Linked DNA regions of Homo sapiens: region 2 is linked to region 1. The links come from fine-mapping of genetic effects on gene expression. A gene starts in region 1. The other region holds a variant in brackets. All regions are shown on one strand. Distances are between the middles of the regions. Region 1 holds the start of C4orf50 (chromosome 4 open reading frame 50). Region 2 overlaps JAKMIP1 (janus kinase and microtubule interacting protein 1).

Region 1 (8,439 bases):
TCAGTAACTTTATCTATAAAATAGAGGTCATTAACCTTGTTCAGTAGGTTTTCATGAAGATTAAATTATATGATGCATTATTATTAATGATAAGGCCAAGAGTCCCTCTCCTATTCCAGTTATCATGCCCTGAGGAAAGGTCTCAAGGGTGGCAGACCAGAGTGTGCTCTCTCGTGAGGATCATAACCAAGATCCTTCCAAACTGGACCACAGGAGCAGCTCCAGTTAGCCAGAGTCAGGCTGAGCACTTTCCGATGAGTTATACAATATGGGGAGATTTGCTAGGAAAAACAAAAGCCTTTCTTTCTAGTTTTGAGACCAATCTGTAACAATAAATATGAGAACAGTATTTAATTCTGATACGATTCCTAATCTTAAACGGAGCAGAAAATGACGAATTTCACTTTGGCAGGGTGAATTTTGGCCCCAAGTTCATCCAGGCCCTAATCCCTGGAACCTATGAATGTTACCTTAAAATGCAAGAGAGACTGCAGATAGGATTAAGTCAAGGATGGTGAGATGGGGATATGGATCCGGATTCACCTGCTGGTCTCTAAGACCAATCACAAGTGTCCTTGAGAGAGGGTTGAACTTAGGGACGGCCCTGTGGACACCAACACGCGATTGCATGCAGCTGGGTCCAAAGATGGAGGCGGGACCAGGAACCCAGGAATGCAGCTCTAGACCTGGAGAAGACCAGGAAATGGATTTCCCCTCCAGCCTCGGAGAGGGCTTGGCTCCACCGACAGCTCGACTAGCTCAGGAAGACTGATTCCGACTTCTGGCCACCAAGCTTGTGGTGACGTGTTACAGCAACCACGGGAAGCTAATACACTCACGAATATGACATAGACAGTGAAGGAACACTGTTCCCTGATTAAACCAGTGACAAGTGTGGATGATACTTTTACTGTGTTTTTAAGTTGTGTGTTTTTTTTTTTTTTGAGATGGAGTTTTGCGTTTGTTGCCCAGGCTGGAGTGCAATGGCGTGATCTCGGCTCACCACAACCTCTGCTTCTGGGGTTCAAGCGATTCTCCTGCCTCAGCCTCCCGAGTAGCTGGGATTACAGGCATGTGCCACCACGCCTGGCTAATTTTGTATTTTTAGTAGAGACAGGGTTTCTCCATGTTGGTCAGGCTGGTCTTGAACTCCCGACCTCAGGTGATCAGCCCGCCTGGGCCTCCCAAAGTGCTGGGATTACAGACGCGAGCAACCGGGCCGGCCTAGTATTGTTTTAAGGGTTAATTATGTTAATACTTGTCAAGCCTGTGAACAGTGGCTTGGTACTGAACAAGTACTCGGTAAGTGCTTAGCTGTTATTAATTTTACTGCATTTAGATGGGGAATAAATATGCAAAATGATAGTGTTATGAAGATGGGAGTGGGATTTTCTTCCTCACATTTCTAGCAAAGCTGTTATATTATTTTGAGAAGAAATACTTTTGTGCTTCAACTCTTTAATTAATGTGAACCCAAGACATACTATCCAGCCTTTCCCCTGCCCCAGCTAGACCCAAACACATTGCAACATTCACCTGAAATCTGTGCTCAGAATTGTGCTTTCAGACCCTGGCCTCAGCTTTTAGCAGCCCTGGATCACTTAGTATTTCATCCCTCAGCCTCAGTTTACTCATCTGTCAAAGGAGATGATGTCACCCCATGCATCACAGGGTCCAAAGGAGCCAAGATGGGGCAAGTATGGGAGGGCCCAGCCCTGTGCCAGCTCCCTTTTCTCCTCCCCTGACCCCTCTTCTGCAAGATGGTGTACCCCATCTTTAAAGAGAACAGAGGACTCGAGCCCACATCCCCCCACAGGCCCAGTCACAGAGGCCCCTCCTCCCTATGGCTCATGGTGTCCCCCTGGGAATCTCTGTCTTTCCCTCCCCCATGGAGGGGTCTCCTTTGGTTGGAGTTCCCTGCCTGTCTTCCTGGGGTCCATTGATCTTCTGGTTTCCACCACCAACCTTTCTAGAAGATTTGAATGTACAACCCTGTATGGGCCTACGCTGCTAGTCTCTCAGCCCAGGGCCCTGCCTTCCCCAACTCTCAGCACCCAGGACTTCTGTTATGGGCTCAACACATCCCTGCATCCTGTGTTGAAGGCCTAACCCCCAAGTTCCTTAGAATGTGATTATATTTGGAGATAAGCCCTTTCAAAGAGGCAATTAAGTTGAAAGAAAGTCATGAGCGTGGGCCCAGATCCAATCCGACTGGGGTCCTTGTAAGAGGAGGAGAGGAGGACACAGACACACACAGAGGGATGACCATGTGACGACACAGGGAGAAGGTGGAGTCCACAAGCCAAGGAGTGAGGCCTCAGGAGAAACCAATCCTGCCGACCCCCCGAGCTTGGGCTTTTGGGATCCAGAAATGTGAGAAAATAAGTTTTTGTTAAGTCACCCAGGTCTGCAAATAATGCCATTTCATTATAATGTTGATGAGAAAAAAAAAGATTCCCAGCCAGGGCCACTGTCTATGTGGAGTTTGCCCATTCTCCCCATGTCTGTGTGGGCTTTCTCGGGGTACCCTGGTCTCCTCCTGCAGCTGTAACACGTCACCACAAGCTTGGCGGCCAGAAGTCGGAATCAGTCTTCCTGAGCTAGTCGAGCTGTCAGTGGAGCCAAGCCCTCTCCGAGGCTGAAGGGGAAATCCAATTCCTGGTCTTCTCCAGGTCTAGAGCTGCATTCCTGGGCTCCTGGCCCTGCCTTCATCTTTGGAGCCAGCTGCATGCAATCCCACACTGGCGGCCACACTGCCATCCCTAGACTCAACCCTCTCTGTCTCCCTCTCGCAAGGATACTTGTGATTGGTCTTAGAGACCAGCCGGCGAATCTGGGTCCATATCCCCATGTCACCATCCTTGACATGTCGACATAGTCCCAGCCTGCGTGAGTGTGCGCGTGGGTGTGAGTGTCCTGTTCAGGCCTTGCACCCTGAGCTGCCGGGAGAGGCCTCAGCCACCTGTGACCCTGAACTGGAACAATTGGGTAAATAATCATCTTACTTGTGTTTTTTTGAGTCTTTCTTAAATCTAAATTTGTTTGAGCCTTTCACATTTATTTCAATGTTTAACATTAGAAGTGTTTGGGGTCTTTATCTCAAAGTTTGGTGATGTTTTTGTGACCTGAAATATGCTGTAGGAACTTAACTCTTATTTGTATCAATTAGCCTATGGTCAAATTAGTTTTGTGGCCAGGTGTGGTGGCTCACGTCTATAATCCCAACACTTTGGGAGGCCAAGGCAGGCAGATCGCTTGAGGTCAGACGTTCGAGACCTGCATGGCCAACATGGTGAAACACTGTCTCTACTAAAAATACAAAAACTAGCTAGGCGTGGTGATGGGCGCCTATAGTCCCAGCTACTCGGGAGGCTGAGGCAGGAGAATCGCTTAAACCCAGGAGGTGGGGTTTGCAGTGAGCCAAGATTATGTCACTTCACTCCAGCCTGGGTGACAGAGTAAGACTCCATCTCAAAACAAAGCAAAATAAAAAACAAAAACAAATTGGTTTTGTTGTAGGTTGCTTCACTTAGTCACAGTTTCCAAGGGCCTATAGACAACGTTCAGTGAGGACTTACTGTGCTTTGTCATGGCAACCCAGGCAAACTAACATAACTTTGTATATGACTCTCGGAGGGTAAGTGCGTTGCAGAATGAATGAAAGAATGGGCAATCACATAGAGTAACAGAAGAATTTTTCTGATTTGTGAATTTCTTCATGCATAAAACTTTACCAAAAGGAAGAAAAGTAAATCACATGTGCATACACGTTCAATGGTCTGCCTTTACTAAATCAAAGGCAAGTACAAGAAAATGGGGAAGTCCCGCAAAAATCCAAGGCACGTGGCTGCTGGGATATGAGTAACGTGTCAGAATCAATCCCCGCTGTCACTGCATTGTGCTTCCATGCTGGGTTTCGCTGATCTATATACAAGGCCCAACCTCGTTCTGCCAGTCTGGGTGTCAAGACATCGTCAGGAAAGAAGATGGGCTTTAGAGAAAGACCTGGATTCAAACGCCCCACCTTGAGGCCAGGTCAGCTCCATCAGGCAAACAGTGCCCACAGCAGGAAGTTCTACAGAGAGAAACGAATGCGGAGAACCTATTTCAAAGATGACAGCAGAGTCCAAAGGCCAGACAGAGACAGGCAGCCTGGATTAGCAACTGCCGGAAGCCACTTCTGCCCCTGGGGCTGGACAGCCACACAGGGAAGAGACGATGTTACCAGGGCAGGGCAGAGCAGCCAGGCCACCCAGCGGGAGCTGGGACCGCAGAGGAAGCCGAGAGCACATCTGAGTTACAGCCACAGTGGGAGATGTCACTGTGGGAACAAGAGTGACTTTATTTTAAACGCTAATCCAGCAGGTGACTCTTGACTAACCCTGAGTCCACGAATGCCTCCAAGATGTGGAGTTGATATAGTTCTGTTTACGTAGAAACACCTATTCATTGTGAGTTTCCTCCAAAACAACCCTTGTCATTGCAGAAACCATAGGCTGTGATGCCTGTAGCCACCTATGCAAGCCTTCCAGAGCACACATGCTTTTTCCCCAGGATATAAGCCCTGGGTTGGGGATGGAAGGTTTGCTGTGTGGACATCTACTTGTCTGGCGGCTGCCTAAAACCATGCTTCTGTCTGCCAGTTCCCCTAAAAAAATCACCCCAAACCGACCAACTGGATTTGTCTGCCTCTGTCCTTGGTTTCTCAGTTCCTTCTACACTTCCCTGTCACTTTGAACATAGGGCCCTTTCATGGAACAGTCACCCAGAGAAGAAGAGAGGGAGAACACCTGGCTTCTCCCTGCCTCCCTCCGTTTCAGGGCCTCCCATTGGCTGCACCTAAATGGAAGCCTTTGAGCAGAGGAGCCCGGGCAGCCTCATCTGCAGGTACAGAGCAGAAGAAGGAGGGCGGGAGGAGCAGAAGGCAAGTGACTGCGTGGGCAGGTTACGTGTCTTTGGTGAGCCAGTTTCCCCAGCTGTGTGGTGTGATTCAACACACCATGGTGACACACTCTGATGGCCCCGCGGTTTGTGAAATACACACAGAGAGATCAAAATGGCATCGCTACCTGCTTCTCAGCCCGGACTCCGATGTCACGTACTTGTCCTCTGCTGCTGACAGCTTCTGCTCGGAGGACTCCAGCTGCCTCCTGAGCGCACCCATATCCATGTCTGGGCGGCCAGCTGCTTCTTCCTGAAGACATTCCCGCTCCTCAGCACTATCTTCCATGTCCTGGAATATCCAGGATGTGTCAATCTTCACATCAACGTTCATTATGTCGAACCCCTCACTGCTGGGGGCTCTGATGACGTAGCTGAAACTCTCCTCAGTCCGTCCCTTGGCTGTTGGCTCCATCTCAGAAATATTTCATGGGGCAAGACTTAATAATAAAATTAAGTGAGTTTGCAACATTGACTTCCCGGAGATTTCAAGGTGGTGTTTGTGACTTCAGATTGTTCAGGAAAATATCCTTTGAGAAGGGCAAGAACAGGTGGATTATTCATGAGTGGGTGACTTGGGTTTCATCTGCACAAGCGTCATACAATATGAATGAAAGCCTCTCGTTTTACAAGTCAGCATGCCAGAACTCACGCAAAGCAAGAAAAAGTTGCAGAAAAATCACTTGAGATGAAATGCCTAGTGATGAACACAGAGAGGAAAAATAAGACCTCCAGGTAAGGCCATCAGATGTTACAGACTCCCAGTAGTCAATGAAGCTTATCTTTTTACCACATAATGAATAAGGTTCCACACCTCCTCTTTGAGCACAGCACATATTTTTCAAGGACCTAGAGTTTGCTAGGGGAAGAGGATGGGAAATTTATGCTGCCCTGGGTGCCGTCTGCATCCAGGGCAGGGGCCTCTCATGCCTTACCTAGTCCAATTCTCCCGGTGACCTTATGAGGTGGGCGTTAACATGACCATTATACAGATGGTCAGACGGAGGCTCTGGAAGGTGAAGGAGCTTATCCGGGTCCCACAGGTGGGATGGGAAGTAGCAGAATCAGGATTCAAATATGGATCTGACTCCCAAACTGGAGTGTGTGTGTTCTGACACAGGAGATACAGTAATAGGTGAGCAACAAGACCCCAGAAAAGGAGCAAACGCATCCTTTGGGCACCCTGAGGAGGGGGAGCGAGCATGAGGCTGAAGAGATCGTAGGAGGAATGGGGAATTACAGCAGAGAGAGGTGGGGAGGAGACTCCCCCAGGTGGGGAGCATCCTCAGGCCACAGACCCGCACAGACAGGCAGGACAAGTGAAGGGAACAGGAGGACCAGACAAAGCTGGCCCCGTGGACACACAGAAGGAGGAAGTGAGGAGTGAGGACAGAGGAGGCTGGGTGCCATCTTCTCTCAGGCACTCAAGGACTCCGGCGTTTCTGTGGGCCCCTGGGAGAAGGGAGGTGCCTGGTCAAATGTCATTTTGAGGATCGAGCACTCTGGGGTTTGCAGGAGCGAGATGGAGGCAGCTGCACCTGTAGGAGGAGGCAGCGCCACAGGCCAGGCCTGGTGCAAAGAGGCGTCAGGACCAAGACAAATAGAAAATGAGAGGCTTCCGTCTCCCTGTTAAAAATAAGAGACGTCCTCCCTCCCTTTTCTTAAAGCATCTACTTTAGAAAATGTGTAAGTTCTTTCTTTGTCTCTTTGAAATATGTGTAAATCCTTTTTACAGCGAAATAAGCCTTTTCCAGCATTACGACTCAGGAATGTTTCCCTGAAGGACCTGGGCACCGCCTCTTTGAGATGTAAATTCGAAGGAAAACAGCGCCCCTAGTGTTCAGTGGGAGGAAGGAGCCGAATTGGGCAGGCGCCTGGCTCCGAGATGCAAAACCTGTCACAGTAAGTGACAGAAGGGTGGAACCCAGGTGCAGGAGAAGCTTTTTTTTCCTTTGTATAAAACAAATTAATGAACACAGAGGGTTGCCCTCGTTGTCAGGTGAGTTTAGGATGAACCATGTGAAACAATGACGCTATCGAGTCCTTTTCCGCAGGGATGAGAGAGGATGTGTGCATGGATTGTGCCTGCCTGGCCATATAAAAGGGTGAAACTTCTTACTGTCTTTGCAATCTCTCAGTGGGTTACCTGTAATGCACCTCATATCTTGGTTTAATGCTTATTCAATAATAAACCTTTTTTAAATTTTCTTTGTGATGAGGTTTTCTGTGCTGGGAGAAGCTTTTGTCTTTAATCATATTTTCCCAACAGTGGCCAATGTCTTGTTGGCCACAAGGGGTTTCCGTGGACCTGGGGCAGTTGGAGGCGGGGGATGGGGGTGCAGTGGAGCCACTCAGATCCCAGGCGCTGGGGCCAGGCTGCCTGGGTTCCAGGCCTGTCTCCATCGCTTCTCAGATGTGATTTTGGACAAATTACTTAACTTCTCAAAAAAAAGAGGGTAAAGATCATGCCTAAGTGAAGAGCTGTTGAGGAATAAATGAGTCGATTCCTGCAAAGCCCTCAGCAGAGCACCTGGCACACACTAAATACAGCATGCTGTCTGCTGGGTAGGGGGCAGACGCAACACTGTCCAGCTGTGTCCAGTTTTCACGCCTACTTGCCGCATGATCCTAGGAAAATGACTCGGCCCCTTGCAAAATGAAACTGACAGCAGTCCCCGCTCCCCACTGTGGTGATGACTGACTGAGCTCTGGGGCGGTGGTGGGGGGTGGTGGCTGGTCCTGTACCTGCACCGCACCGTGAGCTCCCAGGAACATCAGCCAAGAGGAGCCAGTGCAGAGTGGGAGGACTGAGTGACAGCTGAAGGCAATAGCAACAGACTGAAAAATTACCCCAGGGCCACCAAGGAGGAGGAGCTGTTCCAGCCCTTCCTTGGGAGCAGCCCTGAGGGAGGGCACGTCCTTCCTTCTTGCCTAAGGACAGGGAAGCAGGCAGGGCCTCTCCTGGGGAAGTGTTCTCAGGCTTTTTAGGTAAGTGACGGAGGCTCTTGGGGGAAGAAGAAGGTCAAACAGAGAAAATCGTGGCCTGCCCATGGTTTACCAACATCTGTGGTAGCCTGGGGTGGAGATCTGAGCCTGCAGGCCCCTCAGAAGTGGTAGGGCCTGGGCAGGAGAAGGGGACAGATTGATGTGCAGATGTAAGGATGGGGTTCTGCCCCCTTGGGATCCTCAGGGAGGTTCCCTGAGACTGAGGGTGGTGACAGGGAGGACACAGGCCATGGAAGAAATTAAGAGTCCCCGTTTCTGCTGGAACAACAGCCCCTGAGAGCTGGGGGGAGGCTGGGAGGAACGGAGGGAGGTCTGGCCGTGTGAAGACCTGGGCTCCACCCTACTTCAGAGCGGGAATCTGGGGCATAGAGAAGGGCCCTACAGAAAGCCCCAAGAGTCCAGACAACTGGGCTGGGGGGAAAAGGACCCCCCAATGGCACATTCGCTATTTCCCACCCAATTTGGCACATCCCTGGCAAACCCTGTTTAAAT
Region 2 (8,429 bases), 170 kb after region 1:
CATTGCATCATTTTGGAATCTCCCCTTTATTAACGTGCAAAGACCCCTTAAGAAGTCCCAGAAAAGGCCCCAGCCATCAGGTCGTTTCTGTCTCACCTCTGCTGAAATGAGTCAAGAGACTAGCAAGTAACCACACCACCAAGAACAAGAAGGGGTAGTCAGTGACTTCCAAGCAAAGGGCAACTTCTTTTTGTGGTTTCTACATCCTTTCTATACTCACCACCCCGTGTGGGCTTGATATGACTAGATGCTGAACAGGGCGCTCCTTGACAGACACCTACCAAACACCTCCTGTGTGCACAAGGCTTTGTGAGATGTGCTGGTGGACGCAGTTCACATTTCTTAGGCTTCCTCTCAAGAAAGCAGTTCCAGAAAGGGTGGAGGGGAGGGTCATGCTGAGAGAGGAAGAGACCAGGGGCTCGAAGAGTAACACTAATTACAGGCCTGGAGTACATAAACCAAGATGAGCTTACTGCCAGGTTACTACCAGGTCACTATCAGGTTACCACCAGCTCAGTACAGAAGGAAGTCCTTCTCAGGTGCAGACATTTGCAGAGTCCCTCAATGTCTCAGTGGCTCCCCCATCCCTTGAGGAGCTCCTAGCCAAGCAAAGGAGACACTGTAACAAGCCCAGGTGATAACTGGGAGACCAGGGCCTATGGGTGCCAGCGTGGTGAGGGAAGGGACATCCAAAGTGGGCTGTGGAAGGGGTGAAATCAGGATATGCAGATGGAGGAGCAGGGGTCAAAGAAAAGTCAATTGGCATCAGAGAGGGAGAGCAGCAGCAACGCAAGCTCCATTCATTCATTCATTCATTCAACAGCATCCTAGTGCCTGTTCCATGCCAGACCCTGTGCTGAGCCTCAAACATGAATCTCACACAGCCCCTTCCCTCACAGAGCTCTAGCCAGCGGGGAAGAAGACTGTGAATGGCATCAGTCACACACTGTGACCATGGCTGTGACAGACAGATGTACAGGGAGGGACCCGCCCTGGCCTTGGGAGGATGGGTGATGCCCAAGGAGATGAGCCTGTGCAGACAGGAGGAGGAGGGGTCTGGGCAAGTTCAGGGAAAGCAGACGATTCAATAAGGTAAGGGACAGTGTTATGGAGTGAATGTTTATGTCCCCCCAAATTGATACATTGAAACCCTATGGTGGGTAATTAGGTCATCAGGGTGAAGCCCTCATGATGAGATTAGTGACCTTATAAGAAGGGACAGGAAACCAGGCTCGGTGGCTCACACCTGTAATCCCAGCTCTTTGGGAGGCCGGGGAAGGTGGATTGCTTGAGCTCAGTTCAAGACCAGCTTGGGCAACATAATGAGACCTCATCTCTACAAAATTAAAAAAATTAGTCAGGTGTGGTGGTGCATATTTGTAGTCCCAGCTACTTGGGAGGCTGAGGTGGGAGGATCACTTGAGCCCGGGAGCTCAAAGCTGCAATGAACAGTGATTACACCACTGCACTCCAGCCTGGGTAACAGAGCGAGACCCTGTCTCAGAAAAAAAAAAAAAAAAGAAAGAAAGAAAGAAAGAAAAGAAAAGAAAAAAAGGAGGGGGACACAAGAGAGCTTATTTCCTTTCTCTCTCCACCATGCGAGGGCACAGTAAGAAGGCAGCCTCCTGCGAACCAGGAAGAGGGGCCTCACCATGAACCAAGTTGTCTGGCACCATGATCTCAGACTTCCAGCCTCCAGAACGGTGAGAAATAAGCTTCTGTTGTTTCAGCCCCTCTGTCTATGGTATTTCTGCTATGGCAGCCAAATGGTCTGAGACAGTAGGTAACAGCAGGAGCATCAGGAGATAAGGCCACATGTGTGATGACAAGGAGTCTGTGCTTTATCCTGGGCCAGCGGGGAGCCCCTGGAGCAGTGGAGTGACAGTGTGAGTTTCGGAAACATATCACCGTTTCTAGATACAACTGCTCCTTTCCCCAAACACTTCCTATAACTCCACAGCCATCCCGAGGAAGAAGGGAGCAGATATGACCTGGAGATGCCTAGGAAGGCACAGGTCCCTCAAGGTCTGCTCACAGAGACTTGGAGGTCAGGCCAGTGCCAGCTCCCAAGGCAGCCCTTCCTCCCGCTCAGCTCAGCTCAGCTCAGCCAGTGATGGTCCTGGAGGCTCCAGGTTCCCAGGTCCCATCTTAGTAATACAAGGACTCTTGAAGGTTGAGACAGAACAAAGAGCTAAACATGATACAGGCAGATAACAATACCACAGATATCTAGACACACAGATACAGGTGCCCTGCGAAGGGGTGCTGGCTGATGTCTAAAATGGAACAGGGCCAGGTGCAGTGGCTCACGCCTGTAATTCCAGCACTTTGGGAGGCTGAGGCAGGCGCATCACCTGAGGTCAGGAGTTTGAGACCAGTCTGGCCAACATGGTGAAACTCCGTCTGTACTAAAAATACAAAAATTAGCCGGGCTTGGTGGCGGGTGCCTGTAATACCAACTACTTGGGAGGCCGAGGCAGGAGAGTCGCTTGAACCTGGGAGGCAGAGGTTACAGTGAGCCAAGATCATGCCATTGCACTCCAGCCTGGGTGACAGAGCAAGACTCTGTCTCAATAAATAAATAAATAAATAAATAAATAAATTTAAAAAAGAAAGTAAAATGGAACAGAAACTTCAGTACTCAGGGTGCTGGGACTTGGTTTTCAAACCACCTTCCATGGAGTCCTGGTGCTCCTTGAAGATGTTTGGGAGGGCCAGGAGTCAAAGGTCTGGAGCAACAGATGCTTGACTTCTTTTTTCTAGGTGTAATAATTTTAAACTGTGAAAACATCACACCAACTCAAATGGGCTGCAAACCCAATATTAACCCTGGTAGACCCCACTGCAGGGACCTGGGCTGCCAGGTGAACACTCAGCTTTGTGCAGGGCTTGGGGGACAGCCTCTCCTGTCATCTCCAGTGAAATGCACTCTGAGAATGCAAGACAAGTCACTCCCAAAAACGGAATCACAAATGCGGTATGCAAATCGTCACAACAGAATATTTTCACAACCACAACAAAGTCCATTAATACTCAAGATGCCACAGCTGTTCAGATTGCAACTGTCACCCTATACTTTTCGTTTTGAAAGTTGAATTCATCAGAGCAACCTCACTGTCCTCACTGACTGACCTTATAACTGGTAAATGTTGTCAGTTTAAAGTCATAAGATAAATGTGAGAATAAACCATCACTTCTCTGTTTTGTATATTGGAGCAGGGTGGTTTAGCTATGTAAAAATTTTATTTTTGAAAAGACTTCATTTTGCAGATGGGAAAACAAACCCAAAGAGAGGTGAGTGTATCACACTGTCCTGTGAGTATCATCCCTTCTCAATAGGCAGAAACCAGGTGCCCAGCACATAGCAGACACTCCACAAATGCCCTAGGGAAGGAAGAACCGCTCCCAGGCACCACAGCCAGGAAGGGGGCATGCCTCGAACACACGCCTCCCTACTCCCAGCCCACTGCTGGTTTTCAGACTCTGCCGCCTTCCCTCCTTTCCTAGAAATGACAATACAGCCCACACTC[A/T]GCATCACAAGGAGGGAGAGAGGGCAAGGCAAGTGCAGTATAAGAGCCAGGGTGCCTTCCCTCTTCCTCAAGAAAATACTAGAAGCCAAGCACACCCTCCACCCTGAGCGCCAGTGTGGGATGGGTGCTATATGGACGGGAAGAGCTGCTGTCTGCACTCTAGGAAACAAGGGTCCCCCGCGCTCACCTGTAGATTCAGCAAGAGAGCAGGGGTGATTGTGCCTATCGAAGGGAAGCAACCAATTGTCAACTATTTTAGAAACAGCCAAACAGAATGCATAACTACAGGATAAGTGGAGTGATGGTTAATATTGAGTGTCAACTCGATTGGACAGAAGGATAGAAAGTATTGTTCCTGAGTGTGTCTGTGAGGATCTTACCAAAGGAGATTCACATTTCAGTCAGTGGACTGGGAGAGGCAGACCTGCCCTCGGTGTGGGTGGGCACCATCTCATCAGCTGCCAGCACAGCTAGAATAAAGAAGGCAGAATTTGGAAAGAGCAGACTTGCTGAGTCTTCCGGCCTCCATCTTTCTCCCGTGCTGGATGCTTCCTCCCCTCGAACATCAGACTCCAAGTTCTTCAGCGTTTGGCCTCTTGGACTTCCACCAGTGGTTTGCCAGGGCTCTCAGGCCTTGGGCCACTGACTGAAGGCTGCACTGTCAGCTTCCTTACTTTTGAGGTTTTGGGACTCGAACTGGCTTCCTTGCTCCTCAGCTTGCAGATGGCCTAATGTGGGGCTTCACCTTGTGATCTTGTGAGTCAATTATCCCAATAAACTTCCTTTCATATATACATCTATCCTATCAGTTCTGTCCCTCTCGAGAACCCTGACTAATACAAGTGGGAACCAGCCCTGTCTGCCCTAGTTCTTAAACTGGAGAGTGTATTGGAATTGCTCCGAGGGCTCATTAAAAGCCAGACCCCAGGGGCCGGGCACGGTGGCTCACGCCTGTAATCCCAGCACTTTGGGAGGCCGAGGTGGGCGGATCATGAGGTCAGGAGATCGAGACCATCCTGGCTAACACAGTGAAACCCCATCTCTACTAAAAAATACAAAAAATTAGCCGGGCGTGGTGGCAGACGCCTGTAGTCCCAGCTACTTGGGAGGCTGAGGCAGGAGAATGGCGTGAACCTGGGAGGCGGAGCTTGCAGTGAGCTGAGATCACGCCACTGCACTCCAGCCTGAGCGACAGAGGAAGACTCCGTCTCAAAAAAACAAAAGCCAGACCCCAGCTGCAGAGTCCCTGATCCAGGAGATCAGGGTGGGGCCAGAGGACCTGTGGTTCTGAGCTGCTCCCAGGTGAGGCTGCTGCTGGCCCAGGACCTCATTTTGAGAACCACTTCTCAGATCTGTTCACTACAAACCCTCCTGATTAAGGCTCATTAAGGCAGGTGTTCTAGACAATACCTTTAACAGCCCACAGCCAAGTTTTCTATCTAAACTATTAAAACTACATTGAGAAAATATTTATAGACTACAATTAAATATGACACTAGTTCAGACTGGACTTTTTTTTAATTACCTCAGTGTGGAGGTCATTTCCAATTGTGCTGGACAATAAGAGGGAGAAGAGGGGCACTCCATTCAGTAATGGAGATGAAAGTGGACACAGCCAGCCACTCAACACAGTGTCTGGCTAGGGGCTACAGGAAGGAGAACGAACAAGTTGTGGTGAGAATTACACAACTCCTAAGCAGGGAAAGCTCCCAGCTGAAGTGAGGGGAATGCAGGAACAGCCGACGAGGCTTCCCTGGAGCTTGCCAGGGGCAGGTCAGGCGGATGGGCAGGATGCAGACTGAGGAGGCACAGCAGGGTGGGGAAGTCCAAGGAATGGGCATTCCAGGAAAGTGGGATGGTGAGCAAAAGCATGGAAGTTGGAAAAGGAGGTGGTTAGAGTCAGGGAAGTAGTCAAGTAGTCAGTTTGCAAAGGCAAGTGAAGGGGCAAGCAGGAGTGATGGAGGATGAGACAGGAAGGGAAAAGTGGGGGCCTCTGGTGTCTGGCTGGCAAGAACTGAACATCAGCTACAGGCCAGGCATGGCTTGATGCTACTGACTTCTAACTTCATTGCATTGTAGTCACAGAACGTGCTTTGCTTTTTTGTTTGCTTGTTTTCTCTCCTTTTAATTTTATTGAGGTTGTATTAGGGCCTAGCATATGGTCTATCCTGGAAAATGATTCATGGGCACTAGAGAAGAATATTTATTCTGATGTCCTTGGTCTAGTGTTCTATAGGTTTCCACTAGGTCTAATTGGTGTGCAGTGTTGTTCAAGTTCCCTGCTTCCTTGTTGACCTCCTGTAGAGTTGTTCTATCTGTTATTGAAAGTGGGTGTTGACATATTCAACTATTGTTGTTGAATTATCTATTTCTCCCTTCACTTCTGTCAGGTTTTTTGTTTGTTTGTTTGAGACAGTCTCTCACTCTGTCACCCAAGCTGGAGTGCAGTGGTGCAATCACGGCTCACTGCAGCCTCAACCTCCCCAGGCTCAGGTGATCCTCTCACCTCAGCCTCCTAAGTAGCTGGGACTACAGACACACAACACCATGCCTGGCTAATTTTGTATTTTTTTTGTAGAGACAGAGTTTCATCATGTTATCCAGGCTGGTCTCAAACTCCTGGGCTCAAGCAATCTGCCCACCTCAGCCTCTCAAAATGCTAGGATTTCAGGCATGAGCCACCATGCCCAGCCCACTTCTGTCAGTTTTTGCTTCATATATTTTGGTGCTCTGTTGTTAGGTGCAAATATGTTTATAATTGTTATATATTTCTGATGTATTGAACTTCTTGTCATTATAAAATGTTACTTTTTATCTCTAGTAACTTTTTTTGTTTTAAACTCATTTTGTCTAATATCAGTACAGCCCCTTAGCTTTCTTATGGTTGCTATTTACCTGATATATTTTTTCTCATCCTTTCACTTTCAATCTATTTGTATCCTTGAATCTAAAGTGTGTCTCCTATAGACAGTGCTATGATCTGAATGTTTATGTACCCCCAGAATTCATATGTTTCTAGTCACCAGTATGATAGCATTAGAAGGTGAGGCGTTTGGCAAGTGATTAGGTCACGAGGGCGAGCCCTCATAAATGAGATTAGTGCCTTTGTAAAAGAAACCCTAGGGAGCTAGCTCACCCCTTCCACCATGTGAAAACACAGCAAGAAGACTGCTGTCAATGGGGAGGCAGGGCCTCACCAGACACTGAATCTGCCGGTACCTTGATCTTGGACTTCCCAGCCTCTAGAACTGTGAGAAATAAATTTCTATTGTTTATAAGCTATCCAGTCTAAGGTGTTTTGTTATAGCAGCCTGAAAGGACCAAGATAGCATATACTTGGATCATATATTTTATCCCTGACAACATCTACCTTTTGACTGGCTTATTTAACCTATTCATCTTTAATAGTATTGATATAGTTGGACTTATGTCTTCCATTTTATTTTGTTTTCAATATGCCTCACGTCATTTTTGCTCCTTTATTCTTCCATTACTGCCTTCTTTTGCACTAAATGAATCAGACACCGTGTTTGCCATGTAAGTCAGGAGCAAGGACTTCAAAGAGGTATTTCTTTTAAATGTAGATAGCAGAATTACCTTTCTGACAATGTTAAGTTTCTTAAATGGCTAATTTTCAAATCTGTCATTTTTTTTTCTTTTTGGTTCCAGTAAATGGGAGCCAATCAATTATTTATCCAAGAGTCTCTGAACACCATCTACAAAAATGTCCACTACCAGCTTCCTGGGTTGGAAGATTGGAAGTCTACAGCTTGACCTTCTTACAAGGAGGCAGAATGGGGCCACTGTATTTTCGAGATCCCCTTTGTGACATGTGGTGACTGGAAGTGTGGAGACAGCTCATTGCTTCAGACTAAGGTGGGGAGGGATGGTCAGGATTCAGAACAGAATCCGCAATGATGGCGTTTTCAAGTGCTGTGGCACTGTTCTCACAGACACCTGCACAGGAGGTTCTGATAAGGAGAGGTCCTTTCTCCACTTCCAACAATAAACAGATAAGACACCACCCCAAAATGTTCAGCCCACATCCCTACCTAAGAGTGACTTAATACACCCCAAACCTCCTTGCCACTTGACCTCTTAGCATACCCCCAAAGCCCTCTGCTCACTCACAATGATGAAGGGAAGCTACAACCCAGGAGCAAATGAATCGTGAAATTCCAAATTAGCAACTTATTAATCTGGGGCACCTGAGGTTTGGGGCACCTGCATCCCTCCCCCATCTTCTGGCTAGAGCACCCCAATTTTTAATATCCTATCCAGCAATAAGACTTGTTTGTGTCTTCAGTCTGAAGTGTCTTGCATTTGTCCCTATAGAAAAATCCGGGGCTCTGCAATACACAGGCTCTCACAGACTTGGTTCATCCTGGGTGCCTATGGTACTTCCTGGGAGAGATAGATCATGTCAGGAAAGCACCCATCTGCCCAGTGGTTTAAATAGATTAGGCACAATGTGGGGGCATCCAGGCCCTTTTTCAAAATAAGATATCTGGTTTGCAAAAAGAACCTCGTCAAGCCCTGAGCCTGGAAGGCTCCAAGACTTGCTGAGGAAATCCAATTACTGCCGGGCATAATGAGCTCACTCACCCAGCGCCCTGGTCCAACAAAGCAGTCCTGCCAACATCCAGAAAGAAGGTTTGTCTTCCACAGTGCATTCGGAGGGTATGGCTTGGGAGAAAGAGAAAAACCAGGCTAATGGAATAAGAAATGTGACCTTCCGGGACCACAGGAATGCAGTTTGTTTCTGAAGAACAGCATTCTAACATTTTTCTGCTGCCTTAAACTAAAAGCAGGCTGCACCGTAAGGTAGCGAAATGCCAGTCTGAAGAGGGAAAGGGAAACTTTGAGTTTTACAGAACCTTCGCAAATCTCATCTCTGGA

The links. PIP is the estimated chance that this variant, and not a neighbour inherited with it, causes the effect.
Region 2: its variant is fine-mapped to the expression of C4orf50 in whole blood (TOPMed, PIP 0.98).

Annotation. Positions count from the first base shown.
Region 1 is chr4:6,013,076-6,021,514 of GRCh38, forward strand. C4orf50 (chromosome 4 open reading frame 50) reads right to left here and starts at 5,356. Exons shown (of 12, transcript NM_001364689.3): 1 at 5,070-5,356. The coding sequence starts at 5,356.
Region 2 is chr4:6,180,907-6,189,335 of GRCh38, forward strand. All of the region lies in intron 1 of JAKMIP1 (janus kinase and microtubule interacting protein 1), which reads right to left. Among named protein-coding and RNA genes, the nearest start is that of JAKMIP1, 15 kb to the right of the region's middle. RefSeq lists an enhancer at 1-162. The variant A/T (reference allele first, on the strand shown) is at 3,531.